4 separate regions of the Homo sapiens genome follow, and regions 1, 2 and 3 are each linked to region 4. The links come from fine-mapping of genetic effects on gene expression. A gene starts in region 4. Each other region holds a variant in brackets. All regions are shown on one strand. Distances are between the middles of the regions.

What was found.
Region 1: its variant is fine-mapped to the expression of UPK3A in anterior cingulate cortex (GTEx, PIP above 0.99).
Region 2: its variant is fine-mapped to the expression of UPK3A in whole blood (INTERVAL, PIP 0.96).
Region 3: its variant is fine-mapped to the expression of UPK3A in whole blood (INTERVAL, PIP 0.95).

Annotation. Positions count from the first base shown.
Region 1 is chr22:45,934,167-45,942,166 of GRCh38, reverse strand. The region is part of intron 2 of WNT7B (Wnt family member 7B); the gene reads left to right. Among named protein-coding and RNA genes, the nearest start is that of WNT7B, 39 kb to the left of the region's middle. RefSeq lists an enhancer at 6,472-6,972. The variant G/C (reference allele first, on the strand shown) is at 3,608.
Region 2 is chr22:45,406,943-45,415,078 of GRCh38, reverse strand. SMC1B (structural maintenance of chromosomes 1B) reads left to right here and starts at 1,480. Exons shown (of 25, transcript NM_148674.5): 1 at 1,480-1,620; 2 at 6,181-6,369. The coding sequence starts at 1,512. It overlaps RIBC2 (RIB43A domain with coiled-coils 2), which reads right to left and starts at 1,386. Exons shown (of 7, transcript NM_015653.5): 1 at 1,064-1,386; 2 at 676-757. The coding sequence starts at 1,192. RefSeq lists an enhancer at 564-1,397. The variant A/G (reference allele first, on the strand shown) is at 3,204.
Region 3 is chr22:45,416,461-45,424,596 of GRCh38, reverse strand. It overlaps RIBC2 (RIB43A domain with coiled-coils 2), which reads right to left. Exons shown (of 7, transcript NM_015653.5): 3 at 6,651-6,995; 4 at 2,189-2,307. Among named protein-coding and RNA genes, the nearest start is that of RIBC2, 6.8 kb to the right of the region's middle. The variant T/ATAATACTATTATTAT (reference allele first, on the strand shown) is at 3,047.
Region 4 is chr22:45,280,293-45,288,428 of GRCh38, reverse strand. It overlaps UPK3A (uroplakin 3A), which reads right to left and starts at 3,480. Exons shown (of 6, transcript NM_006953.4): 1 at 3,364-3,480; 2 at 2,333-2,488; 3 at 978-1,257. The coding sequence starts at 3,415. RefSeq lists a silencer at 3,350-3,659.

The DNA of each region.
Region 1 (8,000 bases), 650 kb before region 4:
CGGGGGTGTCTCCTCACCTCCCTTGGTCTCAATCTCTACACCAGTAAACTGGGGAGGCGGGGACAGTACTCCCCATCCAGCTCTAGGCTGTGAAGAGCCTGGGAATCAGGTGGGGTAGGGGGCAGATGGGGGCTCAGAAAACCAAGGAGCTCCCCAGCCAGCCGTGTCCCAGGGACCCCTCCCCAGCCAGGCCTCAGGGACCCCACCCCACCCTGCATCCCTACCCTACCTCAGCCCCAGCAGTCCTCCCCTGACCTATTCTTCAGGGAAGTCTATCTCACAAAAGCTCCCCTGCTAAAGGGATTTTAAAGAACCCACGACACCAGGCCTCATCCCATGGTAATGGGAAGCTGAGGCTCGAGGAGTGACGGCCTTGGCCAGGGTCACGGAGCACAAGCCCCAGTTCCATGGGGAGTTGGCCCCGGGAGGTGGGGGCTGGGCAATGCTGGGACATCTTCGCGGGGCCAGGCTTGAGTTCCCACCTGCCCCTCGCCTCTCTCCTGCCATCCCTGGGCACCTTAAGCCACCCGTGGCCGAGGCAACTCTTTCCACTTGATCCTGTCCAGCTTCCTGGTAACAGCCCCCCACCAGCTGCCCTCACTGCATTGGGGTCCTCACTGCAGAAGAGTCTGCACTCTTTTTTTTTTTTTTTTTTTTGAGACAAAGGCTGGAGTGTCACCCAGGCTGGAGTGCACTGACGCGATCTCAGCTCACTGCAACCTTCATCTCCTGGGTTCAAGTGATTCTGCTGGCTCAGCTTCCCGAGTAGCTGGGATTACAGGCCCCTGCCACCACACCAGACTAATTTTTGTAATTTTTAGTACAGACGGGGTTTCGCCATGTTGGCCAGGCTGGTCTCAAACCCCTGATCTCAGGTGATCCGCCCGCCTTAGCCTCCCAAGGTGCCGGGATTACAGGCGTGAGCCACCGCGCCCGGCCCTTCTGCACTCTTTCCTCCCTAAACCCCCTCACCCGATCCACTTGCTAATCCCGTTAGCTCTACGCTGAGACTCTGAGACCTGGCAGCTTTTCACCTCCTCTACCTGGCGGGTCATCAGCATTTCTTACCCAAACCCTTGCACAGGCCTCCCGGTGGGTGGGGTGGAGGGTCCCTTTCAATGTAAGTCAAAGTGACACCTTCCAGGGGCTTCCATCTTTTCAGAACAAAGTCCAAGGTCTTCTCTGAGGGCAACATGGTACAGCCCCCAAGGGCCGTCCCCGACTTCATCATCACTGATCTCTGCTGGGACAAACCACTCATGCTCAGCTCATTCTCACCTCAGGGTCTTTGCATTGCTGTTCCCTCTGCCTGGAGCACTGTTCCCTGAACCTGTGTTCCTCACCTCTCCCATCCTTTGGGACCCACCTTCAGCATCCCTTCCTGAGAGGAGCACTCATTGGCCACCCTGCACCCCAGTCCCTCCAGCCACCCTACCCTGCTGGCTCCTCTGTGGCTCTGACCCCTGGCCTCTGGCGGCACTGTCTGTGAGCCGCTCCCAGCCTGTCTGCTCCCCGGGTTCAGTGTGTTGGTTCTGCCCTGCTGTGTGCTCGGCCTTGCACTTGACCTTGGGCAACTACTTGATGGATGGGAGGCTGAGAGCCTCACCCCTGGGATTCTGGGAGGTCCAGCCAGGAGGGAGGCTGTACTTGGTGCCAGGGACACACAGGTGGCAATAACGTGAGTGTTACAGGCAGTGTCGCGCGTGTGTAGAGTGTCAAGAGGCTGGCACAGGCAAGCGTGGCGTCCAGGTCAGTGAGGCACAAGGCAGACTTTGCAGCTTTCCCTGTCCCGGTGGGTGTGGAGTGGGCTGAGCACAAACTCTGGGGTCCTGGTCAGATCCCGGCTCGGTGTCTCACCTGCTGTGTCACCTTGGGCCAGTCGCCTGCCTCTCCTGAGCCCAGTGTCCTAATTGTGAAGTGGGGGGTCTTAGTTCATACCCATGGGGCCTCAGAGAGGGTTTAAATTGAGTAGGACACGGGTATGAAACCCTCTGAAAGCCATCCATTGGCCCTATGTGTCCATCACAGCTTCAGTGAGATCTAATCCACATACTTCACAATTCATCCATTTAATGTGTACAAGCCCACGGTCTTTAGTATATCCAGAGTTGTGTAGCTGTCACTGCAGTTGATTTTAGAACATTTTCATCACCCCAGAAAGAAACCCTGTGGCTTAATCAGTCCCAGTCCTCTCGCCCCTGGCAACACTCAGGTGCTGTCTAACTCTCCAACTCCTGCTCCTCTGGGCATTTCATAGAAATGGAATCACACTATATGTGGCCTTTGGTGTCTAGCTTCTTTCACTTGGCATGATGTTTTGGGGTTTTTTGAGGTGGGGGTTGAGATAGGGTCTCACTTTGTTGCCCAGGCTGGAGTGCAGTGGTGCGAACATGGCTCACTGCAACCTTGACCTCCTGGGCCCAAGTGACTCTCCTGCCTCAGCCTCTTGAGGAGCTGGGACCACAGGCACGTGCACCACCACACCTGGCTATTTTTGTGTGTGTGTGTGTGTGTGTGAGTGTGTGTGTGTGTGTTTGTAGAGACAGGGTTTTGCCATGTTGCCCAGGCTGGTCTCAAACTCCTGGGCTTAAGGCATCCGCCCATCTCAGCTTCCCAAAGTGTTGGGACTACAGGCGTGAGCCACTGTGCCCAGCCGATATGTTTGAGTTTTATCCACACTGTAGCATGTATCAATACTTCATTCCTTTTTAAGGCTGAGTAATATTCTGCCGTATGGATAGAACACATTTTCTTTATCCTTTCGTCCATTGATGGACATCTGGGTTGTTTCTACCTTGGGCTGTTACAAATAAGGATGCTATGAATACTTCTGCACAATATATAAGTGGGCGCCTGTTTCATTTCTCTGAAGTGTATGCATAGGAGTGGCAGTGCTGGGTCACATGGTGACCCTACGTTTAAGTTTTTGAGGAGCTGCCCAACTTTGCCACAGTGGCTGCAGCATCTCACACTGCCACGAGCATCTCACACTGCCACCAGCATCTCACACTGCCACCAGCATACAGGGGTCCCCATTTCTCCACATCCTCACCAACACTTGGTATTGTCAGTCTTTTTTGCCTTTTATTCCTAGTGCGTGTGAAGTGGCATCTCACTGTGGGTTGGATTTGCATTTCCTTGACAGCTAATGATGCTGAGAATCTTTTGTCTGCTTATTGGATGTTTTTATACCTTCTTTGGACAAATGTCTGTTCAGGTCCTTGGCCTACTATTTTTTAGCTTTTATTTTTTGATTGAAAATTAATACGTAATATTACACATATTTATGGGGTCCATGTGATATGTTGATACATGTATACAATGTGTAACAATCAAGTCAGGGTATTTAAGATTTCCTTCCTTTAGAATATTTATCATTTCTATGTGTTGGGAACATTTCCAGTTCTCTCTTCTGGCTGTTCTGAAATACACAACATGTTGTTCTTAACTGTAGTCACCCCAGCATGCTGTCAGACACTACACCTCACTCCTTCCACCTGTGTGTATTTGTACCTCTCTTTTTTTTTTCAAGACAGATTCTTGCTTTGTTGCCCAGGCCGGAGTGCAGTGGTGAGATCTTGGTTCACTGCAACCTCCCCTCTCCCAG[G/C]TTCAAGCGATTCTCCTGCCTCAGCCTCCCAAGTAGCTGGTATTACAGGCGCACACCACCACGCCTGGCTAATTTTTGTATTTGTAGTAGAGACGGGATTTCACCATGTTGGTCAGGCTGGTCTTGAACTCCTGACCTCAGGTGATCCACCCGCCTCGACCTCCCGAAGTGCTGAGATTACAGGTGTGAGCCACAGCACCCAGCCATCTTTGTACCTCTTAACCCACCTTTCTTTATCCTCCAACACCCTCCCCAGGCGCTGGTGTCTGTCATTCCACTCTCTACCTCAATAACTTCAACTTTTTTCGCTCCTCCATGTGAGTGAGAACATGTGATATTTGTCTCTCTGTGCCTGGCTTCTTTTACTTCACATGATGACCTGCGTGCCACTGCAGGGATGACAGGGTTTCATTCTTTTTCATGGCTGAGTAATACTCCATTGTGTATCTATACCACCTTTTCTTTATCCCTTCACCCGTTAGTCTTTGTCCTTTCTAATTGAGTTGTTAACCATTTTATTATTGAGTTGTAGAAAATGTCATTTTTTTTTTTAGACGGAGTCTCGCTCTATTGCCCAGGCTGGAGTGCAATGGCGCGGTCTCGGCTCACTGCAACTTCCACCTCCCAGGTTCAAGCGATTCTCCTACCTCAACCTCCCAGGTAGCTGGGATTACAGGTGCCTGCCACCATGCCTGGCTAATTTTGTATTTTTAGTAGACCTGGGGTTTCACCATGTTGGCCAGGCTGGGCTCGAACTCCTGACCTCAGGTGATCCACCTGCTTCAGCCTTCCAAAGTGCTGCTGGGATTATAGGCGTGAGCCGCTGTGCCCGGACAAAAATGTCATTTTTTAAAAAGAGGGGCAAGTACGGGAGGAGAATTGAACTGTGTGGGCCGGAAGCACAGACCCGTGAGCACAGGTTCACATGGCAGCTGGCGGGCACTGCCTCCAAGGGTCAGCCCAGGTGTACGCCAGGGACACGTGCTGAGGTGCACACCTGCTGCCCAGGGATGCCCAAATGTGTGTCTGCCCACGAAGATCCCAAATGTGTCGTGTGTCACACCTACAGGCATGAAGCTCAGGTCAGCCTGCCCCCAGGACTGTGTGTGCCCTTCTGGCCAGATTGGAGCAATTCTCTCATTTTGCAGGTAGGGAGACAGGGACACAGAAAGGCCCCTTCACCAGTCTGAGGTCACTCAGCTGGCCAATTTCAGGGTCTGGACTTGAAGGCAGGGTGTCAGACTCTGAGCCTCCCCCTTGCTTCCAGAAGGCTCCAGGAGCATGTGTGGCCCCCAGACCTTTGCCCTCACCTCAGTCACTTGAGAACCTCATGTCCTGGATCCCCCATTTCCTGAGCTGCTGTGTGACCTTGGGGAGCATGCTGCCCACCTCTGGGCCTCAGGCTCCTTGCTGGGGATGGAGGAGCCGCACTGGATGGTCCCCAAGGGCCTTCCCAGCACTGAGGCTGCAGACTCCTGGCTCTCCTCCTAGGAGGGCACCAAGTACCTCTCCCACCTCCTCCTCCGTGCAGTTAATCAGGTCATTAGGAGCTCAACCATGGCTTTCTAACAAAAGTGCACCGGCCCCTGTGGACGCTAGGAAGTGGCAGGGAGCTTGAGTGGATGGTGAGGAGTGGCAGCTGCGGCTGGGAGGGTGGACTCAGCCCCCAGCTTTGCCCTGAGGAGAAGAGGGGGAAGCCTCATCCTGCCCAAGCCCTGGCTTTGTTCAGGACACACATCTGCTCTTTCTAGAAGCTGCTCACAAAGATCTGCCAGGGTCCCCACCATCCTCCTCATGGTCAGAGTGAGATGACTGTGGATGAGGGCGCAGCTCTGCCCCAGCACACACCCCCTTCCCTGGACATCAGGGTCTGGCTGGCACTGCAGAGGCAGGGCAGGGGGCTGCGTCTCCTCCCTCTGAGCCTGTCCTGGGCCCAGCCAGGGGGTCCTTTGAGGGCTTGAGTTCAAATAACTTACGGAAAAGGGAGCAGAGCTGGATGGCCCTTGCATGGCCAGGCAATTTCTGACCCAGCAGCCTCCATTTACCCACATGTCTCTGAGGACTCTGATACTCTGGATTTGAGGGGACAGCTGGGCAGGGCCGATGGGGCTGGCCTTGGGGAAGAGGCTGTTTCCAGCCCAGTCTGCATGGAGCACAGACAGACACCTCGGTCTGTCCTGGAGTCCTTTGCTGTGTCTGGTCCACCCGTAGCCGGCCCTGGACTGCCCACCATCTTAGTGATGTGGGTACCATGCCCATTCATCCTGTTTGCTCTCAGAGCTGGCAGCTAGGGCTGTGCAGCAAGGTGAGGATTTTGAGTTCCATGTATCAAATGGGAACACAGGCTCAGAGAGGGCTGGTAACTTGCCGAGGCACCAGAGATAGCCTGCACTGGAAACAGTGAATCCTGCCGCAGGGCTGGAACCTTCAGGACCATTACTCAGAAACCCACCCAGTGCTCTTGAGGGCTGTGGGGTGAGGGGTGGCCAGAATATAGTCTGCTCTGGCATTTTCTAGGGATACTGCTGGATGCTGCTGCTGGCTCTAGAATCTGGGGGTACAGACCTGTGCTTGGGTAGGCTGTGGGTCTTCAGAGAGGCCCCTAGGCCCCCCGAGACCCAAGTGTACCAGCAGGACAGCTGCCGGCCCCAAACAGAGCATCCGTGCTGCCCTCATCCAGCTTCCCCATCACCACACACATCTAGGGCAGCTGCTGAGCTCAGATGGCTTTCGTCACTGCCATGGGCCTATTGCAAATCCCTTCCTGCTTTGAAGGCTCGGTTTTCCCATCTGTGAAATGGGTCTGATCAGAATGGGGCTGTCTTGGAGATAAGGTGGTGTGGGGGAGGTGCCCAGTCCAGACCTGCTCATGCATGGGATTTGGGAAACAGCGATGGGTGGGAGGTACAGAAAAGAATCAGATGTGGATCCTGCCTGCAGCCTGAGGGGCACCCAGTGAGAGCCCAGGGGAGGGTGTGCCCACTACAGAGGGCATTCGGGGAGGAGGGAGCCTCCCTCCCTGCGTCCAGAGCCTGAGGAGTGTGTGGATATGTGGGAGGGTGGGCAGGTATTCCAGGAAGGGAGGGGGCTGCTGTCCCCCAGGGCAGGCGGCAGGAAGCCAGCAGGTCCTTTATTCAGGAGTAGTTACTGTGCACCAGAGGTGGCTGCCCAACCTGCAGGCAGGCCACGCTGGGCTGCAGGCAGTGGTGGGCGAGGAGCGGTGGGGTCAGGCCTCTGGGGCCTTGGGGGCCAGGCCAAGGCACTGGAAGTCGTCTCAGAGGCCTTGGGGGCCACTGACAGCTGCTGAGCAAGGCACATGGGTCCAGGCTGTCTGCACCCACTGCAGAGGACCGGCTTCTAAGTCTAAGCACTGGCTCGCTGTCAGCCTGGAGGAAGGATGGCGTGTGGGCGGACTGGCAAGGTGCCCAGTCACGGCCCCAGGAGGGACTTGGGGAGGGACACGGGGGAAGCCTGCAGCCCTTCTGCCCTTCCCACTACACACCTAGGCACACCATGACAAAGCCCTCGGAGTGGGCGTCTAGGTCTGTAACATGGGGTAACGGGCCCTCCCCCGTGGGCTGTTGTGAGAATTAAACCAGACAACACAGGCAACGTGCCGGGCGCACGGGAGCCCACAGTCCACGGCAGCGACTCTCGCCGGACCTAAGGTCGTTCTTACTGATTGTGCCAAAACTATGACTCTCTGCAGCTCACCTCCCCCTTGTCTCCATGACGAGAGACCAGAGGGTTTGGCTCATTAAAAGCAAATAAAAAAGGAATTAGCAGGAGCGGCAGGCGATGAGTAACCGGTGAGTAACTGAGTCTGAGCCTGGGGCAGGCATAGCCAGGTGAGAGCAGGCGCTTGCGGGAGGCTGGAAGGGAGGCTTGTGGGAAGTGTCCTCCAAGGGTGCAAACCCAGCCGTGGATCTGCCAGCCTGCTCAGGGACTTCAGGACAGTGGCATCCCCTGACCCGCTCTGCAGCCTTCCTATGGGGCAGGAAGAGGAGGGTCACAGGCTGTTGTTCCAGGACCTCTGAGGGGACATCCACATCTGTCCTCAAGGTCCACCGGCTGGGCCCGCACAATCATTTGGGGTTCCTAGACCCCCTCCATCGGGTGACACATGCCCACTCCAGAGCCAGCTCAGCCTCCCTAGAGCTCCTACCCAGAGCCTGCCTACAGCTGCGCCTTTCCCCCAGGTCCACAGACTGTCCACAGGCAGCATCTTCCCTGGGGGCTGCATAGCCCACATCCCCCCTCTCCTCCTGCCCCAGGTCACCTTAGCCTCAGAGAGGCCAAGCTGGGGGCAGAAGGACCTTCCAGGGCCCCCGACCCCAGGCACTTTGCTCCTCCGTCAGCCTTCCTGGTCTTTGAATTCATTCCCTGGGTTTGA
Region 2 (8,136 bases), 130 kb before region 4:
TTGTTGGACACGATAGGGGAAAATAAGTTGTATTTGAAGTGGAATAATAATACCTTGAATAACAGTATTCAAGGTACTTGAATACTATGATTTGAATCATGTCTGTCTCTGAGTCAGCTTGAGGGTGTGAGCCCGGACATATGTGTTGTCTGGTATAAACAGCTGTCCTTCATAGACGGTCTTAAACTTTTGAGCAGAGCAAGTGAGTGTGTGTGTGTGTCTTTCTGTGTTTAAGGCTTTTCCTATCCAGTTTTTTAAGAAAATGAAGGAAAACATACATATACCCTTAAAATCTATTTCTTATAATCCACATTCGAATTCAATAGCTGTTTTTAAGAGAAGAATCAGTGCATTAAGTTAACTGGGCACAAGAAATTGTGAAATTTAAAAGGAAGAAGAGTGTGAAAATGACAACTTTTTATATATGTGAAGAAAGGAGGGCTGGGTACCGTGGCTCATGCCTGTAGTTCCAGCACTTTGGGAGACTGACGTGGGAGGATCACTTGCACGCAGGAGTTCCAGACCAGCCTGGGCAACATAGTGAGACCCTATCTCTATTAAATAAAAAAAATAAAAAATAAAAAAAAAAAGGCGGGGCAGGGGGACGGTGGGGAAGACTGGAGTCTAAAGCCACACAATCCTAAACCAATAGATAAGCATTCAGGAAATGCTCACCAAAGGTTTCATGTCTAGCTTTTTCAGTAGCTTCTTTTATCTTCTGGTCATGAACTTGAACATCCCAGGCTTCAGTGTCTCCCTATAAATGGAAAAACAGAGGAGAAGGGTTAGAGCCAGATCATTTTATTCAGTAATAACAATCCTACTTATTATTATTTTTAATCTCTGCCCCACTGTAAACGAGTTGTAGAAAATCTGGCTCAGGGGAGGAGAACCGTTGGTGACTCCAGGCGAGCTCGAGAGGGAGCATTATTGGCCCTGCAGGAGGCCGTTTGCTGCCTCCTGGCTCAGATGTTTCATCCTAGAACTCATCTCCTTTCCCCCTCCACGCAGCCCCTCGCCCGCATCTGCCGCTCTAACCCCGTCCCGGCCCCTGCCCTTTCACCCCAATTATCCTGTTTCTGGCGTTGAAGACCCGCTTCTGCCTGCACAGCTCCGCGTGCCTCCTCTTTGCCAGGTTGGCGTCCTGCCGCAAGTCCCTGGGCAGCGCCACCGCCATGGTCTGGGAACCCATGGAAAGCCTAAGGGGTTTTTAGAACACGCAGGATCAGGAGAACAGGCGACGAAAATAAGGAAGCTGTAGCGCAGGCAAGGTCGGCTCCTTCGGTCGGGCAGGGGAAAGACAAGCCTTTAGCGCAGTTTTCCGTCGGGCTCCCAGTGACGCCGCAGAGGTACAGACGCTCCCGCTCTCTCGGAAATGTCAACAACTCGTTGCTAAGGAACGGCTCCGCGCTTGCCGCGTCTCGCTCTCTTCTCGCGACACTTGGCGAATCCCTTCCCGCGCTTTTTCCGCGGGCGCTTGATAACGCGGGTGAGGCGTGGAGGGCGGCGCCATGGCCCACCTGGAGCTGCTGCTTGTGGAAAATTTCAAGTCGTGGCGGGGCCGCCAGGTCATTGGCCCCTTCCGGAGGTTCACCTGCATCATCGGCCCCAACGGCTCTGGTAACTGAGCAGCTCAGGGCGCCACCGGAGCGCCTCCGCCGTCCCAGGCGTCCAGGCCACACGTGGCCTGTGGGGTGTGGGCGTCTGCCGCGGGCGCCTGGCCGGCCTTCCCCTTCCAGTCCCGGAGCCTGACCGCGACCGGATCCCGGCCTGGCCCTGGCCCAGCCCCTGCCCATCACCCCACCTCAGCCCCGGTCCTCGCCGTCCACCTCAGGGGTCCCGACCCTTGTCCCTCCGCCCCACCTCGGAGGTCCTGACCCTTCCACTCGGCCCCGCCTCGGGCCCCGCTCTCGCCCTCCACCTCCTGGCTCCCGACCCTCCTCCGACACCCTGAGGGACCCCACCCCACCTCAGCTCCGGCCCTCGCCCTTCATCTCAGGGGCTCCCAACCCTCGCCCCCCACCCTGGGGGTCCTGACGCTTCCTCTCCGCCCCGGTCCCGCCCTGGGCCCTGTTCTCTGCCCTCACTCCTGCTTCGGGGACTGCTCTTGCCCTTGGCCCTGGTCACTCGCGTCCCTTTTCCCTTCTCATCCGAAGTTGAAGTGAGAGGGAGCTGTCGAGGAGGTAATGGGTTCCAAGCAGCCAGAACCACCATTTGGATCCAAGGGAGCTTTGACCCAGGAATGTAGTGATGATGACCCAGTTTACTGAGCTTTTCCTAAGTTCCTGGCGACACCGTCTTTGGTTAGCCATGGCGCATGGCTGCTCTCCCCATTTTATAGTTGGGGAAACTGAGGTCTGGAGAGGCCAGAGGACCTGCGGAGGTCTCTACTAATAATACCAAAATTAGCTGGGTGTGGTGGCACACGCCTGTAATCCCAACTACTCTGGAGGCTGAGGCGGGAGAATCGCTTGAACCTGGGAGGTGGAAGTTGCAGTGAGCCAAGGACACGCCATTGCACTCCAGCCTGGCAACACAGTGCGACTCTCGTCTCAAAAAAAAAAAAAAAAAAAAAAAAAAGGCTGGGCGCGGTGGCTCACACCTGTAATTCCAGCACTTTAGGAGGCCGAGGCGGGTGGATCATGAGATCAGGAGTTCGAGACCAGCCTGACCAACATGGTGAAGCCCTGTCTCTACTAAAAATACAAAAATTAATCGGGTGTGGTGACATGCACCTGTAATCCCGGCTACTGAGGAGGCTGAGGCAGGAGAATCGCTTGAACCCGGGAGGCAGAGGTTGCAGTGAGCCAAGATAGCACCACCGCACTCCAGCCTGGGTAACAAGAGCGAGACTTCGACTCTAAAATAAAATAAAATAAGATAAATATAAAATAAAATTGGCCGGGCGCCGTGGCTCATGCCTATAATCCCAGCACTTTGGGAGGCCGAGGCGGGCGGATCACCTTAGGTCAGGAGTTAGAAACCAGCCTGGCCAACATAGTGAAACCCCTGTCTGTACTAAAAATACAAAAATTAGCTGGGGGTGGTGTCACGTGCCTGTAATACCAGCTACTTGGGAGACTGAGGCAGGAGAATCACTTGAACCCGGGAGGCGGAGGTTGCAGTGAGCCAAGACTGTGCCACTGCATTCCAGCCTGGGCGACAGAGCAAGACTCTGTCTCAACAAAAAAATAAGGCCTGAC[A/G]TGGTGGCCCACACCTGTAATTCCATCACTTTGGGAGGCTGAGGCAGGCAGATCACTGGAGGTAGGGGTTCAAGACCAGCCTGGCCAACATGATGAAACCCCATCTGTACTAAAAATACAAAAAAGCCTGGCGTGGTGGCGCACGCCTGTAGTCCCAGCTACTCAGGGGACTGAGGCAGGAGAATCGCTTGAACCTGGGAGGCAGAGGCTGCAGTGAGCTGACATCACGCCACTGCACTCCAGCCTGGGCAACAACAGAACAAGACTGCATCTCAAAAATAAATAAGTAAAAATAAATAAATAAATAAAATGCACCGTTCAGTGGTTTTTAGTATATTCAAAAGTTGTGCAACCATCATCACCATCTACTTCCAAAACATTTTCATTGCCCCCAAAGAAACCTTGTACTCATTAGCAATCACTCCCTGTTATTTCCTCTCCACCTAGCTCCTGGTATCTACTAATTCACTTTCTGTCTCTATGGATTTACCTATTTGGGACATTTCGTATAAATAGAATCAGACAATATATGGCCTTTTGTGTCTGACTTCTTTCACTTAGCATAATGTTTTTCAGATTCATCTATGTTGCTCCTTGTATTAGTACTTATTTCCTTCTTATTTTCAAATAATATTTCACTGTATAGATATACTACATTTTGTTTATCCATCAGTTGATAGTTTGGGTTGTTGCCACTTTGTGGTATGTTATGCTGCCTTGACTCTCTTGACAGACTATAACCTTTATTAGGCAGGGACAATATTAATGAAATTTAATGGAATAAATGGATTTGGATGAGAAGTATTTATTTTAGGCAGATTTAAATAAGGATTGACTTATTGATTTTAAAAGTTTATGTTTAGTTTTGTTACTTAATACTTAAATTACTTAATAATTTAATTCAGTGAATGTTTATCTTGTCCATATGCACTGTCTTACAATAGCCCTCAATGTGCAGATTATCCATTAACCCAAAAAAGCCGTTTCATACCTGTTAGTTGACTGAGACTCAGCTAAATAAATTTGCAGCAATTTATTTCTAGTTCTTTTTAGAAAGACCCTAAACCTCTAAAACTAAGCCATATTTCCGGTGGCTGATAGTATTCCTTTGCTTTGTTTATGTTACTTTCCTAGTTTTGGCATTGAAAATTAATTAATTATTTCTTTTGTCTTGAGATGGAGTCTTGCTCTCTTGCCCAGGCTGGAGTACAGTGGTGTAATATCAGCTCACTGCAACCTCTGCCTTCTGGATCCAAGTGATTCTTCTGCCTCAGCCTCCCGAGTAGCTGGGATTACAGGCGCACGCCACCACAGCTGGCTAATTTTTTGTATTTTAGTAGAGACGGGGTTTCACCATGTTGGTCAGGCTGGTCTCGAACCCCTGACCTCGGGTGATCTTCCTGCCTCGGCCTCCCAAAGTGCTGGGATTACAGGTGTGAGCTGCTGCGCCCAGCCTGAAAATTTAAACTGCTTTGTGGATATAGGGGAAGGGATGTGAAAAGGAGAAATAATAGTGATGGTGACAGCTGCATTGACATTGCACCTTGGAAATTGTCTTAGAGAAAATTATGGGCCAATGATTGGGTAACAGATTTAACATTGGGGTTAGGAATGCCCACAACTACCCTTAGGTTCAGTAATTTGTTGGGAAAACTCACAGGATTCTACATATAGTTTGACTCAATACTATTATTTATTACAGTGAAAAAATACAAAGCGAACTCAGCAAAGGGAAAGGATATATGAGGCAAAGTCTTAGGAAACCAGTTGCAAGATTCCAAGTCCTTACCCATTGGTGTCACTCAGTGCTTCATTCCTCCAGCAGCTAGTCCACACATGTGAAATGTTGCCCACCAGGGAACCTCACTAAAGACTCAATGTGCAGCGTTTTTATCGGGAGATTGTCACATAGGCACCGTTTGCCTATCATGTACCCAAGTTCCAGAATCTTCTTAGGCCAGACCTTCCTCAAAAGAAATTATAAAATAATATTCCAGAATCCTAGAAAGAAAGCATATGTTCAGATTAAATCATATTGTTTGTACAGATAGTTTAGGCACTGTGAGCCATTCTTAATAGGGAATGTTAGAAACCCTCCCAACATCCAAATCCAAATCCCTGTAAGCCAGCCAACCTTGTAAGTAGGACTTTCAAAAGATAACAGTATCAAGCCTGCTATATAAATTTTCTGTAGCACCATCTCATACCAATCAAACAATTTTAATCTAGCCCTCGATCCTGGATTTAGTTAGCTTCTCTTGTTTTTATTTATTTATTTATTTATTTATTTATTTATTTATTTATTTATTTAGAGTTGGAGTCTCTCCTCGTTGCCCAGGCTGGAGTGCAGTGGTGCAATCTCGGCTCACTGCAACCACCGCCTCCTAGGTTCAAGCAATTCTCTTGCCTCAGCTTCCTGAGTAGCTGGGACTACAGGTGCGTGCCACCAAGCTCGGCTATTTTTTATATTTTTTGGTAGAGAGGGGGCTTCACCGTGTTGGCCAGGCTAGTCTCGAATTCTTGACCTCAGGTGATCTGCTCACCTTGGCCTGCCAAAGTGCTAGGATTATAGGCATGAGCCACCGCGTCCAGCCTTAGCCTCTCTTTTTTAGAGTATAAGAGGATTTGGTGCTGCACCAATGCTTTAGGTAGTTTCCATATTTATAAAATGAGGATAATTGAAACTCAGTGAAGTTAAATGATTTGCCATGGTGTGATACCTAACAATGGAAGAGAGCTGGGATTTAGATAGGTGTATTTCAGTCCTTAAATTTAGACCTCTTAATAGTCTACAATAGATGCATAGAAGAAATGAGTTATCTACATCAAATATTTCAGTCATGCATTTTGAACATTGATTAAAAAGGACATGTCTTTTGGCTATATTTCACTTCGATTGGTGGCCTGATTTCTTCAGCTCTGGGTAGGGCTTTTTATCATTAAGAATGAATAATGTTTTATCTCTTTTCTTCCCCAGGAAAATCTAATGTAATGGATGCACTTAGTTTTGTAATGGGAGAGAAAATAGCTAATTTAAGAGTGAAAAATATTCAAGAACTCATTCATGGAGCACATATTGGAAAACCTATTTCTTCTTCTGCAAGTGTAAAAATTATATATGTGGAGGAAAGTGGCGAAGAGAAAACATTTGCAAGGATTATCCGAGGTATTTTTTTATAATTTTTTTTCATTTTATTTTTCAAGAGTCAAGTAAGATTGCCCATTTTTTCTTTCTTTGGAGGGTATGGTTTATTATTCTACTGGTGTAATGAACTAGAGTTCTTTTTTCTCTTGCATAGCATATCTCAGAAGCAAGTAACAGAACCTGTTTGATTCGCCACATATTTCTCCAATTATGTCTGCTTTTCCTTAACTGACATAATTGTTCAAATCCCCCTACTGTCAAATAACATTTTAAAATCTGGATATTTAGTTAAGATGAAGGAGGGAGGGTCGGGTATGGTGGCTCACGCCTGTAATCCCAGCACTTTGGGAGGCCGAGGCGGGCGGATCACGAGGTCAGGTGATTGAGACCATCCTGGCTAACACGATGAAACCCCGTCTCTACTAAAAATACAAAAAATTAGCTGGGCGAGGTGGCAGGCACCTGTAGTCCCAGCTACTCGGGAGGCTGAGGCAGGAGAATGGCATGAACCCGGGAGGCAGAGCTTGCAGTGAGCCGAGATCACGCCACTGCCCTCCAGCCTAGGCGACAGATCAAGACTCCGTCTCAAAAAAATAATAATAAGATGAAGGAAGGAGTACCTTGAAGACAGAGAAATCATAAAATTTATTCTTGAGGTTCTTTATGTTTATCAGTTTTTCTTAGTGATGAACAAATTGTATGCATATTTTTGGCTTTATTATAGACAGTTTTTTCTACCACCAAAAAGCAACTTGAGTGAAATGTTTGAATTTGTGTGTGTGTGTATATATACATTTACGGGAAAAGAGCGGGGATTTGGGAAAGAGGAAGAAATTTTTTTTAAAGGTGTGGATAGAAAAGAGACCAGTGGTTGCATTCTTTTGAGCCTTTGATCAATTGTTCACATGTGACAGGGGTAGAGGCATAGTCACTTCTGCATTAGGCTAGCTCAGTGAATCTGCATTTTTATATAAGATAATATAGGCTGGGCATGGGGCTCATGCCTGTAATCCCAGCACTTTGGGAGGCCACAGCAGGACGATTGCTTGAACTCGGGAGTTTGAGACCAGCCTGGGAAACGTGGTGAGACCTTGTCTCTACAATTAGCTGTGTGTGGTAGCGTGAGTCTATAGTCCCAGTACTTAGGAGGCTGAGGTGGGAAGATGACTTGAGTCCGGGAGGTCTAGGATACAGTGAGCCAAGATTGCGCCACTGCACTCCAACCTGGTCAACAGAGCAAGACCCTGTCTCAGAAAAAAAAAAAGATAAAGATAGTGCAGAGGAGACAATCAGATATACATTTATCTCAGGTGAGCAGAGGGATGACTGAGTTCTGTCCTTTGTCCTGTACATGTGAAGATAAGCTATCAATTTATATTGTCAGGTTAAAATTCAACAGAACTGTTTTAGGGTAAAGATCTTGGGGCCCACAAGGAATTTCCCTGTGGGTAAATTGTGAGGGAGGCATGCAGTTTTTGTTGCTGTTGTTGTTTTTCAATCTTTACAGCTACCTTATTTAGTAACAAAATAGGAGGCAAGTTTGCATGACCTAGTTCCCAGGTTGACTTTTCCCTTTGGCTTAGTGAGTTAGGGGTTCTGAGATTTATTTTCCTTTTACATCCTGACTAGGATATATGCTCTTCAGATAAGAGACTTTCATGTGTTTTGTTCGCCACTGTAAAAGAGACCTTGACATGTAATAGACACTCAATATTTGTTGACTCATTAAATGCATTTATTCCCATGTATATTATTATATAACTGGCCATTTCAATAAGAAAAATAATT
Region 3 (8,136 bases), 140 kb before region 4:
TCACAGCCTGTCCATGGCGGGCAGGGAGCATGCATGGAACATCAACTTTCTGTTTAAGCCACTGAGACTGCTGCTTCTTATCCCAGCAAGGGTTAGCACATTCTGACCGACACAGGAGGGTGTTGTCGCTTCCTCATTCTGCAGATGATCAAATGGACGCAGTGGGTGGCCTGCCCAAGGCTGCAGGGCAGAGCCTGGTCTGCACCCCGTGTGGTCGGGCTCCAGAGCCTGCGTGCCACACCCTGATGCCACAATGCCTCTCTGACGAAATGAGCCCCGACCCAAGAACTGGAGGCCCTCACGTGTGTCCTTCCTGTTGAACTGGACCGGCCTGCTTGGGCTTTGGATTAACATCCCAGGTTAATTAAAAAGCCTAGTTGTAGTTAGTAGCAGAGCTGCAGAAGCCAGAGGGCGGCTTTTCCCAGTGCAGGAGTGTTTGCAATGGTGCTGCCTCGTGGCATCCACGTGAGGAGCCGGGGGTCTGAGAAAACCAGGCAGGCTGTGGATGCCCATTAAACATCTTCTAGAATATATGAATGAATAAATTGATGAATGAGACAATAGGGTTTAGCAAAAGCCACTCCAATGCCCAGCAGGAAGGGCTCAATAAACATTGGTTGAATTGATGAATGAATGAGTGAATTATCATCATCATCATCACCATCGCTTCCATAAATGAATGAGCAGATCACCAGCCAACAGTGGACTAATTGTCAAGGGCCCCACATCCTGCCATTCACTTGCAGTGGGGACTGGAGCAAACAGCCTCCCCTCTTTGGTCGCCCTCTGTAAAATGAAGGGCAGGGATGGATGATCTCTAAGACCTTTGCAGCTCACTGGGTGGTGAGCTCGGACTTCAGGTGTCTTGCTTTGCCTTTTGGTCCTCCCCAGCCCCCGCAGTTGGCTCTCCTCATTCCTCTCCCCCGTGTTGAAAACCCACATTCTCTGGTGTCTGGTCCAGCCTCTCTGGGATTTTTGACTGCCTGCCTCCACCAGGACAGTTTTGAGCTTGTATCTCCAATATATTTAGTTCACAGCATGGTACTACTATACCTTAATGATAGCACATGCTTATAACTACACATGTACATGGAAATCAAAAGTGATGAGGTTAAAAATGAATATAAAGCAGGGCTCTGGTATCTGCTCTCCCACAGATCCTGCACAGCCTTCTTTGGGGACCATAGTTCTAGTTGACGAGCGAACCTGATCAATGAACCCAGGCAAAGTCCCCACCCACCAGAAAACAGAATTGCATTCGAAAAGAAAACCTTGTGGGGGGAGGGAGAGGCAGGGGGGCGAGCTCTAATTTCCAAAACGAAAAGAGGGCCAGATGTGGTAATCCCAGCACTTTGGGAGGCTGAGGCGGGAGGACTGCTTGAGCTCAGGAGTTTGAGACCAGCCTGGGCAACATGGCAAAACCCTGTGTCTACAAAAAAATACAAAAATTAGCTGGGCATGGTGGCGCGTGACTGTAGTCCCAGCTACTTGGATGGCTCAGGTGGGGGGATCATCTGAGCCTGGGAGGTCGAGGCTGCGGTGAGCCATGATCGTGCCACTACACTTCAGCCTGGGTGATGGAGTGAGACCCTGTCTCAAAAACAAACAAACAAAAAAACCAAAGAAACAAAAAGAAGAACCTATTTCAGCAATTTCAGCATCAGGTTGGAGGGGAGGGGAGTGTGTGGGAGGAGGGGGGCCAGAGTTTAGAGAGGAGGTGGGAGGTCTCAGGAGGCCCCAGTGTTCGAGCTCATTATGATCTTCTTCATCATCCCTGCCATCGGTGAGCATCCAAGTAGCTGTTCTCAGTAAAGGGGAAGTCTGAGAGGTGGGAAGAATGGAAACCAGCACCAGGCAGTGGAGCAGAGCTAGGCGGTAACAGTCTAGGTGGATGTCACCATCCTCATGTTACAGAAGAAGAAACCGAGGTGTAGAAAGGTGAGCTGACTTCCCCAGGTTACATGGCTAGTTTGGCAGGTTTCCCTCCAAGATTCAGAGCTAAGGCACAGGACTGGGTCTCATCCATCTCTGTCATCAGGCAGCCCATCAGGGTCTCTGTCAGGGCCGGTCATGTGACCAGGGAGCAGGCTGAGACTGGGATCCCAGGGAAGCCGGAGAGCCTTGGGAAGCCGTAGTGGGCTCATCCTCCCCTCCAGTCGTCGAGCCCGAGGTCGCGGAGTACCTATACCTGGCTCTTGTTGAAGTCTTTCACAGATGCACAAACTGCCTTTCTGGTGGTGCTTTCCAGCTTCTGGAGGTGCTTGGCTGTCTCGTCAAACTGCAGCCTTGTCTCTGTGTAGAGGGCCTCTGAAAGGAGGCAAGAAGCAATCAGATCGACCTGGCCACAGGAGCACCTTCCCACGTGTGGCCGTTCGTGCCTTTGCCTCCTACCACGTCCTTAGCCATGAGCATGAGGACGGGAACAATAATGACAGGACCTGCCTCTGAAGGCTGTGGGAGAGTCAAGCTCCCAGATGAGTGCTAGTGATCACTACTATGCTGGGGTCCTGGGACAGGCTGGTGGTGTGCCCCTTGCTGTCCTGCTCTATCCTGAGGCAGCTACATCCTTACAGTGGGCAAGAGATACTCTACAGCCCCAAGAAATGACGTTTGAGACCTGCAGGACAAAAGAAGTGGGTTGGGAGCAGGTGCAGAGGTTTTGGGAAAGGATTCAGGGGAATCCAGAAGTGAAAGAGCAAGAAACCAGACAGGACTCTATGGAGGAAGTGGGGCCAGATGACAGATACTGTGGAGTGGCAGGAGGACTTGGTCAGGCCAATGAGTAAGAGAAAGAGGAAGAGTAGGAGGTGAAGGGGTCAAGGTAGAAGGTCCAAAAGCAAAATGTGAAGATTTGGAGTCAGAGGAGGCTCACATCCCAGCCCAGACATTTCCGAGCTCTGTTAACCTCAACTATTACTTAGCCTTGCTGAGCCTGTGTCCTTACCTGTGAAGCAGGACATACCTCCTTTGCAGAATAATAACATTATTATTATTAATAATACTATTATTATTATTAATAATACTATTATTAATAATACTATTATTA[T/ATAATACTATTATTAT]TATTAATATTATTAATAATACTATTATTATTATTAATAATACTATTATTAATAATAATAATTAATTAGACATCCAAGTGCATTAGACATCCAAGAGAAGTTAGATGAATTTATGAGTCTGGATTCAGGGAAGAGTCCAGGCTGGAGGTATAAACCTGGGAAATGATGGCCTATAGGTGGCATTTAAATAATAATTAATTATTTAATTATTATTATTAATAATAGTATTAATAATAATAATAGTATTATTATTATTTGACATGGAGTCTCGCTCTGTTGCCCAGGCTGGAGTGCAGTGGTGCATCTTGGCTCACTGCAACCTCTGCCTCCTGGGTTCCAGCAATTCTCCTGCCTCAGCCTCCGGGGTAGCTGAGATTACAGGCGCGCACCACCACGCCCAGCTAATTTTGTATTTTCAGTAGAGACAGGGTTTCACCATGTTGGCCAGGCTGGTCTTGAACTCCTAACCTCGTGATTTGCCCACTTTGGCCTCCCAAAGTAAGAACAGTGTTGAATCACTTGAACCTGGGAGGCAGAGGTTGGCCAGGCTGGTCTCAAACTCCTGACCTCAGGGGATCCACCCACCTCGGCCTCCCAAAGTGCTGGGATTACAGGTGTGAACCACTGCACCTGGCCAAACTCCACATTGTTTAAAAGTATCACTGACTGCTGTTTTGGGAATGGACCAGAGAGGGGCAAGAAAGGAAGTGGAGGCCATCAGAAAGATCTTGGCAGAGGTCTGTTCAGCTGAGATGGTGGCTTGCATCACAAGGGTGACAGCAGGGATGGGGACAAGCGGACAGTTCAAAATATATGCAGGAGGTAGAAGGGACAAGAGTCAGAGATGGCCTGGAGTCAGGGGTGGGTCATGGATGATTCCCTAGACTTCTGGTTTAAGGGCAGGAGGTACCAGTTAGTTGGAGGAGAAAGATGGAAAAAGGAGCAGATGCAGAAGAGGATCCAGGGCTGCTTTCCGACATGTTGTGAAGGGTCCTGTGAGATGTCAAGGAGACTGCTGAAGAACCAAGTCCACAGCTGAAACAAAGCCTTTTGGCCAGAGGTGGAAATTTAGACCACTTGGGAGATGGATGAACCATACAACACGTCAGTGATCAAGGCTATGGAGAAAAATTAAGCAACAGGATACGGAATGTGGGGTGGGAGGAGGGTACAGGGTTTAAAATAGGGGGGTCAGGGGAAGCCTCACTGATAAGATAGCACTTTAGCACAGCCCTGGAGGAGAGTGGTGATCCCTACAGATATCTGGGGAAAGACATTTCTAAGCAGAGGGAACAGCACATGCAAAGGCCCTGAGGCAGAAGTGAGCCTGATATACTCACGTCTGAAAACAGCAAGATAGTGTGGAAAGAATGGAGTGAGAGGGCAGCATAGCAGGAGATAAGGCCAGACTGTGAAGGCGTTGTAGGTCTCTGAAAAAAATCGTTTACTCTGAGTGAAATGTTTACTCTGTAGGATAAGGGGAGAGACCCAAAGAGCAGCTGAGAGATGCTTTTTGTTTGTTTGTTTCAGATGGAGTCTCACTCTCACCCAGGGTGGAGTGCAGTGGCACAATCTCAGCTCACTGCAAGCTCCGCCTCCCGGGTTCACGCCATTTTCCTGCCTCAGCCTCCCGAGTAGCTGGGACTACAGGCACCCGCCACCACTCCCGGCTAATTTTTTGTATTTTTAGTAGAGATGGGGTTTCACCGTGTTAGCCAGGATGGTCTTGATCTCCTGACCTCGTGATCTGCCCGCCTCAGCCTCCCAAAGTGCTGGGATTACAGGCATGAGCCACTGTGCCCGGTCTTTTTTTTTTTTGAGACAGGGTTTCACTCTGCTGGCCAGGCTGGAGGGCGGTGGCACAATCACGGCTCACTGTAGCCTTGACCTTCCAGGCTCAGTGATCCTCCTGCCTCAGCCTCCTGAGTAGCTGGGACTACATGGGCACGACACCATGCCCAGCTAACTTTTTAATTTTTTGTAGAGATGAGGTCTCACTTTGTTGCCCGGGCTGGCCTTGATCTCTTGGCTTCAAGTGATCTTTCCTCCTCAGCCTCCCAAAATGCCGAGATTACAGGCATGAGCCACTGCGCCCAGCCGAGAGATGCTGATAGCCTTAGTTCAGAATGGGAATGTTGGAGGGTGTGGAAAGTAGCTGAAAAATGGAGAGAAAGGAAGGAGTCAAGATTACCTGGGCTGGGGCCTGGGCAGCTAGAAGAAAGGAGCTGTCACGGATGTGGGTAGAAGGTCAGGTCTGCAGGGAAGAACAGAGTTATTGGACTCGTGCTGATCTTGACAAGTGCATTAGACATCCAAGAGAAGTTAGATGAATTTATGAGTCTGGATTCAGGGAAGAGTCCAGGCTGGAGGTATAAACCTGGGAAATGATGGCCTATAGGTGGCATTTAAAGCCATGAGACCGGACAAGATCACTCGGGTGAGTTTAGCTGGTAGAGGAGAGCACTGGTGTGAACAACATCCAGAGGTTGAGCAGATGAGAAACCAACAAAGGACCTGGATGGGAAGGGAGCTAATGTGAGAGTGGTGTTCTGAAAGCTGAATTGCATGCGCATTTCCAGGAGCAGGAGGTGATCGACTGTTAGGTCCAGATGAAGGTCAAAAACCGACCTTGGATTGGGCGACATGGAGGTCACTGGTGAGGTTGGCCAGGGCAGTTCCAGTGGAGCAGGGAGGGCATAAATCTGGTAGGAGTGGGAGAAGAATGGGAGAAGATGATCTGGGGAGACATCACTCATGGAGAGTAGACTGGGGAGAGAAGAGGCTTGGAGGAGGATGGGCCGAGCAAGGAGACTGCAAACTAACAAGCAGAGAGGAGGCGCTCAAGAAGGCGGAGTGCATTCCTCTCTGTGCCTGGTCCCTGTTTTGTCTTCCTCATAGCTCCTCACTATTCCATCACCCGCTGACACACCCCAAGAGAGCAGGGATGTTGTCGTCTTCGTTACCCGGTCTTTCCGGCACAGAAGTGGCTGGGCGGGTCAGTGCTGCTCGAGTGCAGGCATGAAGAGGAGCTGGGAGAGCAGAATGCTGCTGACCTCAGTGAGGACACATGGGGCTTTCTGCAGTTCCCTCAATGAGAGGCTGTTTCATGCCTTGGAGCCTTTGCCCAAGAGGTTCCCTGGGCTTGGGGAGTCCTGGTGAGGGCATGTGACCACCATGCCTGCAACTACACCCCCAAAGTCCCCTGTAGGAATTTCTACCACAGCACCCAAGAGACTCAGGAAGACCTGCATCTTTCCCATTCACCTTCCCCGCAGACTGGGAGGGCAGGGACCGATTCTGAGTTACCTCTGCACGCCGGCATCCAACTGGGACCCCGACACGGAAAGTGTTTTCCACATGACTGAGGTGTCATTGCAGGTGTTTCCCTCCTGGAGGGCAGGCTCTGACTTTTCTTTCCCCACAGGGCCAAAGTAGCATGTGGCTGTCTGTGCACATTGGTAGGACTTTAAACAAATCCCACAAAAACTGTAGGGTTGCTTAAAAAAAAAAAAAAACTGTAGGGTTGCTTAAAAAAAAAAAAAAACTGTAGGGTTGGTTTGTTGAAGAGAGCGTTGAGACCAGCTCGTCTCTTCTGTTTCATTACCTGCGCATTTTTGTTCAGCACGGGCGTTCTTCCATTCCCTTTGCTGCTGCAAAGACCATTCTCTGTTTTGTTCCTCTTGGAATTTCTTCCTCTCATGGAAGTTTAAATCCTCTCCCATGAATTTCTGCATTCCTGATATCGTATTCCGAACATCATTATCTGACTGCCGGGCTGGAAGATCTTTCTTAAGGGCTAGGGGGTCGGACAGATCAAATTCACGGCGAGTTTCTGGCTTCTGAAAGCTCTGTTGGAAGTCATTGATAGCCCTACAGAGATTTTTCCTATCCCTCTTTTTCCGGTTTTCCAATATGCACATGATTTTGTCATTTTGCCTCATTTCAGCAGCTGGAAGAGATACAGCATATCCATAAGCTTAGGATTCAGAGGAAAAAATAAATTTGAATCCATTTTATTTTTTATTATTTACTTTTTTAGAGATAGGGCCTCATTATGTTGCCTGGGCTGGTCTCCTGGCCTCCAACCATCTTTCTGCCTCAGCCTCCTGAGTCACTGGGATTATAGAAGTGAGCCACTGAACCCAGCCCATGAATCTACTTTAAAAACTAATTTTTTCAGTGATTGCAAAAGTAATACAACCCTCCAAAAAAGTAACACAGCCATTAAAGGATTAGTATCCTGAATATACAAAGAGTACCTACAAATCAATTAAAAAAACCCCAAAACCCCAACCCAATAAATGGGCAAAGTGTAGGAACGGCCAGGCAGATCACTATAAAGAAACCTGAGGCTGGGTGTGGTGGCTCACACCTGTAATCCCAACACTTTGGGAGCCCGAGGTGGGCGGATCACCTGAGATCAGGAGTATAAGACCAGCCTGACCAACATGGTGAAACCCTGTCTCTACTAAAAATTCAAAATTAGCCGGGCGTGGTGGCAGGAGCCTGTAGTCCCAGCTACTCGGGAGGCTGAGGCAAAAGAATCGCTTGAACCCAGGAGGCAGAGGTTGCTACGAGCCAAGATCACGCCGCTGCATTCCAGGCTGGGTTACAGAATGAGACTCTGTCTCAAAAAAAAAAAAAAAAAAAACCTGAGTAATCAATACAATTATGAAAGGATGATCACCCATACAAGGTGGGAAACATCCAATGAATCGAAGGCAAAATATTTAAAATGCTAATAATGGCACACATTAGTAAGGATGTGGGGAAACAAGATCTCTCATTTGCGGCCAGGCATGGTGGCTCACGCCTGTAATCCCAGCACTTTGGGAGGCCGAGGTGGGCGGATCACAAGGTCAAGAGATAGAGCTTATCCTGGCCAAGATGGTGAAACCCCGTCTCTACTAAAAATACAAAAATTAGCTGGGCTTGGTGGCACGTGCCTATAGTCACAGCTACTTGGGAGGCTGAGGCAGGAGAATCGCTTGAACCCGGGAGGCAGAGGTTGCAGTGAGCCGAGATCGCTCCACTGAACTCCAGCCTGGTGACAGAGCAAGACTCCATCTCAAAAACAAAACAAAACAAAA
Region 4 (8,136 bases):
CAGGAGATCGAGACCATTCTGGCTGACACAGTGAAACCCCGTCTCTACTAAAAATACAAAAACAAAAGTAGCCAGGCGTGGTGGGGGCGCCTGTAGTCCCAGCTACTCAGGAGGCTGAGGCAGGAGAATCGCTTGAACCCGGGAGGCAGAGGTTGTGGTGAGCCGAGATTGCACCACTGCACTCCACCTTGGGCAACAAGAGCGAAACTCCATCTCAAAAAAAAAAAAGCAGAAGTTGAGGCTGCAGATGGCAAGGCTTTGGTAGGGTTTCTGTTCATGCTGGGCCCCAGCTTTCCACTGGGTGACCTTCCCTCTCTGGCACAGTTTCCTTTCCTGTAAGACGAAGGGGTTTGGGTGGGTGACTTCCACACACGTAGATGGGCCAGGACCAGCTGCATAATCTGTGGGCCCCAGAGCAAAATGAAAATGTGGGCCCTTGTTCAACAATTAAGAATTTCAAGATGGGCCAGGCATGGCAGCTCACGCCCGTAACCCAATACTATGGAGGAGGCCAAAGCAGGCTGATCACTGGAGGTCAGGAGTTCGAGACCAGCTTGACCAACATGATGAAACCCCATCTGTACTAAAAACACAAAAAATTAGCCGGGCATGGTGGTGTGCACCTGTAATCTCAGCTACTCGGGAGGCTGAGGCAAGAGAATCGCTTGAACCTGGGAGGCGGAGGTTGCAGTGAGCTGAGATTGTGTCACTGTACTCCAGCCTGGGAAATGGTGGAGACCCCGTCTCAAAAAATAAATAAATAAATAAAATACAGAATTTCAAGACGGTAGTTGCAGAGCGTCAATCCAAGAGGGGCCTCTTCTGAACTTGAGGCTCAGCGTGGCCTGCCTGGAACCTGGGATGTTCTCAGCATATAAGTTCTCAAGAAGTGTGGCTGCTCCTACTTTGCCCCTGCTCTCCCTCATCAGGACTGGGGAACTGCCGCGGCTCTCCTGTAGTGGTTTGTTTACACCCACCTGTACTCCGTGGCTGCCGACAGGGGTGCGTTACAGAGGCCCTGGAAGTTGGGATCCCACAGGCAGGTCCCGTTGGCACCCACCCTGACCAGGTAGGCATTCAGGATCTGTGAGGCCTTGGACACATCCCCAATGGCATCCAGGCTGGGCAGGTCACTGCAGGGGATCAGGTCAAAGGCCACAGCTTTGTAGGGACCTGTCCTCCCACCCTCTGTTTGTAGGAACGTTGAGCCCAGTGGGGTGTTGGTGCTGTCTTGCACTGAGGCATTCCTGGAAATGGCTGCAGAGGCGGTGCAGGGAGTCAGGCTTCTGGCCACTCCGGCTCAGCGACACTCACTCAGTTATTCATCAAATGCCTGATCATCCTTTCTGCCCCAGCTCTGTGCTGGGCACTGGCATCACAGGCATGGGGCAAACTTAGTCTCTGCCCTCTCAGTGCAATGTGGGAGATGGACAAGGATCACCTCCCTGCTTTGGGCGCTGTGTCTGACTCTCGCCTTATCTTGTGACATTCCTGCAACCCCCCATCCCAACAGACCTTTGTCTCTTCATTGCTGAAAGCCCTGGATTCTCTCTTGTGTAAAATGGGAAAGGAAGGTCATCGGTCCAAGGGAAATAACGTGGAGGCAGGACCCAGCTCTCCTCCTTACTAGATGGGTGACCTTGGACAACTCACTCTACCTCTTCAGACCCTAGTCTTCTATGAAATGGGAGAGAAATTCCCTACAGTGCCCGGAGATCAGGCACTTTAGTTTATAGTCAATAAACACATGCTGAAAGAAGAAAAGGATGGTCCCGAATGAGCTGTTGTAAATGACTGGCTGCTAGAAATGCAAGAGTTGATGTTGGCTTGTCTCAGAAGCTCAGGATCCCCTCCAGGGCAGGGGTTGGGGCTGGGCCACAGCAGCAGGTCCAAATGCATGGTTTTGTCTCAGAAACACCAATCTTGAGCCACCTTTCGAAGCCTCAGGAAGGACCTTGGGCTTGGGGACTAGAGAGATCAGGATTCACTCTCCAGCCCTGGGAGGTCCAGGGGGGGTTATTCCACCTCTCTGAGCCTTGCTTCCCTGCTCTGTAATGGGGATTGGTAATAGCTACCTTACAAGCTGGTTGTAGATACTAGCTCTATGGTGTGCAAAGTGCCTGGTATGGTGTAGGTGTTCAGTGACTGGTGGTGTTATTACTTCCCTCACTAACTGGATGTCCCTGCAAGGCAAGGACAGGTCTGTGGCTGCAGTACCTGTTTAATGAGACGACTACAGGCATGGAGGGTTCCTCTATCTGCCTCCTTCCCTCCTCCCTGCAGACAGGTCAGAGCCCCTTTTGGAGTAGCCAGAGGGAAGCAGGACCCTTACCTGAGTCGACCAGGACATACAGGTAGACCTCGTGGGTGCCAGTGAGGGCCTCTTTGCTGTCAAACATGCAGAGAGGCTTTTCCAAGGCCACAGTGGTAAGTGTGGGGTTGTTGGTGGCGAAAGTCACACTGGCCAGTTGGGGCTGCAGGTTCACAGCTGGAGGAGGCAGTGAGGATGGGAACTGACCTCCGGCAGAACTGTCCACACCCACTCTGCTTGCAGTTACTGAGCACGTGTTGTGTGCCAGGCCCTGGGCTTCACCCTCCCCCTGGGCCACCGCATAAGCTGTCTCAGACACTGCCCCCTGCCCAGTCATCCTGCTCAGAAATGGAGCGGTCGGGCCAAACTGCTGCCTTCTCTCCCTGCTGCAGACACTCAGTTGCCAAGAACTCCACTGCCCCTCCTAAGCATCTCTCCATGCCATCGGCCCAGCCCTCCTCCGTCCCACCTTCCTCACCTGGGCCCTCCCCCCACATGCAAGTCTGACTGCCTCATTCTCTGGCTATGGCCCTCCCATGGTCCCCCAGCGCCCCCTGACGAAGTCCAGCCTCTCTGGAAAGGCAGTGAGGTCCTGAAGTTCTGGGCTTTGCTTTGTTCGGTCTCCAGCCTCACCCCTTCCCCCACAGGCTCCCCTCACCCCAGGCTCCAGCTGGTCCCATGGACTGGCAGTTCCCAGGACAGCCCAATATTGTCTCCCCTCCATGAACTTGCCCATGCTGCTTCCTCGGCCGAAATATCTCTCTATCTGCCCCCGTCCAGGCGTCACCATGGGGCTGGGGCTAGTCCCTTCTCTGTCCTACCGCAGCCCCCCTGCATGTTGGTCTCTTGCAACACACATCGCAGGGCTGCAGCCATCTGTGAGCCCTCGGATTCCCAACAGAGGAGGCCCGTAAACGTTGGCTATCACTATTATTCATAACAGTAATATCTGGGTCCCCAGCGCCAGGAATCAGGGTCCAGGCGGCGGGCGCCCCAGGGCAGAGCTGCCCGCTCTTTCTGGGCTCAGCCCCCTCCTGCCCTTCACCGCCTACCCGAGCCGAACCGCAGGCAGCCGAGGGCCAGCAGGGCCCAGAGCGGAGGCATCGCCCGGGAGGAGCCGCCAGAGCGCGGGGCGGGCGGTCCAGCGAGCAGGCGCGGGCACCAGACCTGTCCCTGCCAGGGCACCTGCCAGCTCTGGGCCCTCGGCGCGCCCCGCCCCCGCCTGGGCTGGCCAATCCGCGGCCTCCTCGCGCGCTATTTGCATACGGCCCTGCCCCGGGCTTCCCCGACCCGTGCGCGGTGCCCCAGGGCGCAATCCCACCGGGCAGGACCTTCTCCAGCCCGCATCAAAGCGCCTACTGTGTGCCCAGGCCAGGGCAGCCCTTCCACAGCGTCTCTCACCAATGGGACCTTGAGGGCAAGCCACTCCCACTTGGAGCCTCAGTTTCCATACTGTAAAATGACGCTAATTTCTACAACTATTTATGGAGGCTCTATTACGTGCCAAACACTCACTGGGCACTCGCGAAACAAAATGGGTTGACCAGTAAAGGTGATATCCTGGAAAACGAAGTCCAGGCCTGGGAGCTATCCAGAGACCCTAGTATGACGCCTAGTATGACCCCTTCGGTTCACAGGTACAAGCCAAGGCCCGGGAGGCTGGGGGGTGGGGCAGGGGGTAAGTATTGGAGCGTGGTGGGGGGCGCGGGGACAGGGACTCACCCCCGGCCGCGCTTGGTCTCCTGGAGACACTGAGGCTGGTGGAACCCAGGAGTCCAGTGCTCAGCCCAGGGCTGCCTCCAAAGGGATGGAGCAGGGTGTTAATGCCTACTTCTTAAAGGGGCGTTTGAAAATTATGATGGACTCCTCACCATGACTGTGCGGTTCCCTCCATCACAAGAATCTGTGCACATCTCTGGATGCACCTTAAATCAATTTTACATTTAAGAAATAAAAGTAAGTCAACAAGGATAGGAAAAAAACAACAGAAGAGGGGCAAGGAGGCTCATGCCTGTAATCCCAACACTTTGGGAGGTCAAGATAGGAGGATCCCTTGAGGCCAGGAGCTAGAGACCATCCTGGGCATCATAGTGAGACCCCATCTCTACCAAAAAAAAAAAAAAAAAAATTAGCTCAGCCTAGTGGGGCATGCCTGTAGTCCCAGGATTGCTTGAGCCCAGGAGGTCGAGGCTACAGTGAACTATGATCATGCCACTTTGAGCTATGATTAAAGCTGCAATAACAGAGCCAGACCCTGTCTCTTAGAAAAAAGATAAAGAAAATCAACAGAAACTAATTAATCTCTGTATGACGTTGATGACATAACCTCACTTGCAGAAAAAGAATAAAACGATCTGAGTAATTATAGAGCTGGGTTGTCCAGGGGTACCTCCTTAGTGGAGTACACTCTAAGAACTGGGAGGCCTGTGACAGAACCCCAAACCTCACTAGTGACTTTGTTATTGGCAGTGGGGAGGGCGGAGCCATTCCGAAGCAACTTTGGGTTATCCTAGGATTGGTGGTACCAGAACCCAGATTCTCACTGTAGGATGAGGGAGATTTGGAATGGAGGAAGGAAGCACATGAGGTCAGTGTGTCCCATTATTGGGGATGTTCCATTTCATCATTTGGTAAAGTTGGTATCTCTGGATTAATGTATGTCTTGTTCCCTAAAAATCTTTTTTTTCTTTTTTTTTTTGGGGGGGACGGAGTCTTGCTCTGTCACCCAGGCTGGAGTGCAGTGGCGTGATCTCGGCTCACTGCAAGCTCCACTTCCCACGTTCACGCCATTCTTCTGCCTCAGCCTCCCGAGTAGCTGGGACTACAGGCACCTGCCACCATGCCTGGCTGATATTTTGTATTGTTTTAGTAGAGACGGGGTTTCGCTGTGTTAGCCAGGATGGTCTCAATCTCCTGACCTTGTGATCCACGCACCTCAGCCTCCCAAAGTGCTGGGATTACAGGCGTGAGCCACCGCGCCCGGCCCTTGATCCCTAAAAATCTTTCCCCAGCTGGATGCGGTGGCTCACGCTTGTAATCCCAGCACTTTGAGAGGCCGAGGTGGGCAGATCATGAGGTCAGGAGTTTGAGACCAGCCTGGCCAACACAGTGAAACCCCTTCTCTACTAAATATACAAAAAAACCCAAAAAACTAGCCAGGCGTGGTGGCAGGCGCCTGTAGTCCCAGCTACTTGGACATCCATGTCCCGCCCAAAAGGTTTAACTTGAATCTCATCAATAGGAAACCATCAGACAGTTCTCAGCCTTTTGTTTTGTTTTGCTTCTGTCTTTCCTGATGTGAACATTTGCAAAGCATCCAGTCCAGCTGGTTTGCAGAAAGTCCCTGCATGTGGATCTGTCTGATGGTTTCCTATTGATGAAATTCAAGTTAAACCTTTTGGGCAGGACATGGTCATGACGGTGAGTTCTAATCAGTGCTACTTGGGAGGCTGAGGCAGGAGAATCTCTTGGACCCAGGAGGTGGAGGTTTCAGTGAGCTGAGATCGCGCCGTGCCACTGTAATCCAGCCTGGGTGACACAGTGAGACTCCGTCTCAAAAAAAAAAAAAAAGCAAGCTGAATGTATGACTTCCATTATTTATTTTGTGCTCAAATGTTCCCAGGCCTGGCTGTTGGCAGCTCCTTCCAGCAGCTCTGTGCTAGCTGCTTTCACGCTCCCACCATTCTTTGAGAACCTCTTTACTTTCTGGCACAATAAAATGTCCCGGGCTCCTCTTGACATTCCCTGTCCCAGCTCTGGATTCAGCCATCTCTCCAAGGGGCACTGGTGCCTTTCACTGGAGACTGGAGTTTAAGATCTAACAGTGGCAAGGTGCCTCTTGCAACTGGGTATTACTGCTTCTCGGTCTGTCTCAATGAACCTAGTTTTTTCTTTTTCTTTCTTTCTTTCTTTCTTTCTTTCTTTCTTTCTTTCTACCTTCCTTCCTTCCTTTCTTTCCTTCCTTCTTTCTTTCTCCTTCCTTCCTTCTTTCTTTCTCCTTCCTTCCTTCCTTTCTTCCTTCCTTCTTTCTTTCTTTCTCCTTCCTTCCTTCCTCTCTTTCTTCTTTCTTTGTCCTTCCTTCTTTCTTTCTTTTTTTTTTTTTTTTTTTTGAGACAGTTTTACTCTATTGCCCAGGCTGGAGTGCAATGGGGTGATCTTGGCTCACTGCAACTTCCACCTCCTGGGTTCAAGAGATTCTCCTGCCTCAGCCACCCACCTGAGTAGCTGGAACTACAGGCGCACGCCACCATGCCCAGCTAATTTTTTTGTATTTTTAGTAGAGACGGGGTTTCACCATGTGGCCAGGCTGGTCTCGAACTCCTGACCTCAAGTGATCCACCCGCCTCAGCCTCCCAAAGTGCTGGGATTACAGGCCTGTGCCTGGCCAGCCTTTTTCTTTTCTTTTCACTTAAAAATCTTGTTTTAGTAATTTTTTTCCATAACTAATTACAAATAACAAAACACCAGCATTTTCCTTCTTCCATTCCAAATCTCCCTCATCCTACAGTGAGAATCTGGGTTCTGGTACCACCAATCCTAGGATAACCCAAAGTTGCTTCACAATGGCTCCGCCCTCCCCACTGCCAATAACAAAGTCACTAGTGAGGTTTGGGGTTCTGTCACAGGCCTCCCAGTTCTTAGAGTGTACTCCACTAAGGAGGTACCCCTGGACAACCCAGCTCTATAATTACTCAGATCGTTTTATTCTTTTTCTGCCAGTGAGGTTATGTCATCAACGTCATACAGAAATTAATTAGTTTCTGCTGATTTTCTTTATCCTTTTTCTAAGAGATAGGGTCTGGCTCTGTTATTGCAGCTTTAATCATAGCTCAAAGTGGCAAGATCATAGTTCACTGTAGCCTCGACCTCCTGGACTCAAGCAATCCTGGGACTACAGGCATGCACCACCAGGCTGAGCAAGTTTTTTTTGATTTTTTTTTTTTTGGTAGAGATGGGGTCTCACTATGTTGCCCAGGATGGTCTCTAGCTCCTGGCCTCAAGGGATCCTCCCAGCTTGCATGTGGATAAAGTGTCATGATACCTGAAACTAACATATATATGAGATTCGAGAGAAAAAGAGAAAGTAAATTTAGTGTAATGTTAGCAATTGGTAAATAAGTATGAGTATTTACTGTAGTGTTCTTGAAATGTTTCTGTAGGTTTGACATTTTTCAAAGTGAAAATGTTGGGGGACAGAGTCTGTTCTCTGCCACAGAAATGCACTGTTCCCCTCTTTGGGTGTCGGTTTACCTTCTAGAAAGTGGGGAGGGAGTTTGGTCACCTCTCAGCCCTGACATGCAGAGAGCGGATGATCAGATCCTTATCTTCAGCACACAGAAAATGTCCCAGAGGTAAGGAACTCTTGAACAGGGCTGCGGTTTTCTTCCAAGAATTTTTATAGACTGACATTTCTTGTTCAACAATTGTTTGTGAACCTGGTTGTGAACCTGCAGTTTATCAGAGGCCAGCAGGGTTGATTTTCTTTTTTTTGAGATGGAGTCTTGCTCTCTCACCCAGGCTGGAGTCCAGTGGGGCGATCTCGGCTCACTGCACGCTTCGCCTCCCAGGTTCAAGCCATTCTCCTGCCTCAGCCTCCCAAGTAGCTGGGACTATAGGTGTGCACCACCACATCTGGCTAATTTTTGTATTTTTAGTAGAGACAGGGTTTCACCATGTTGTCCAGGCTGGTCTTGAACTTCTAACCTCAAGATCCACCAGCCTCAGCCTCCCAAAGTGCAAGGATTACAGGTGTGAGCCACCGTGCCTGGCCTCAGCAGGGTTGATCTTAAAGGCCCAGCTCAGAATCACCTGTGAGAGGAAGTAGG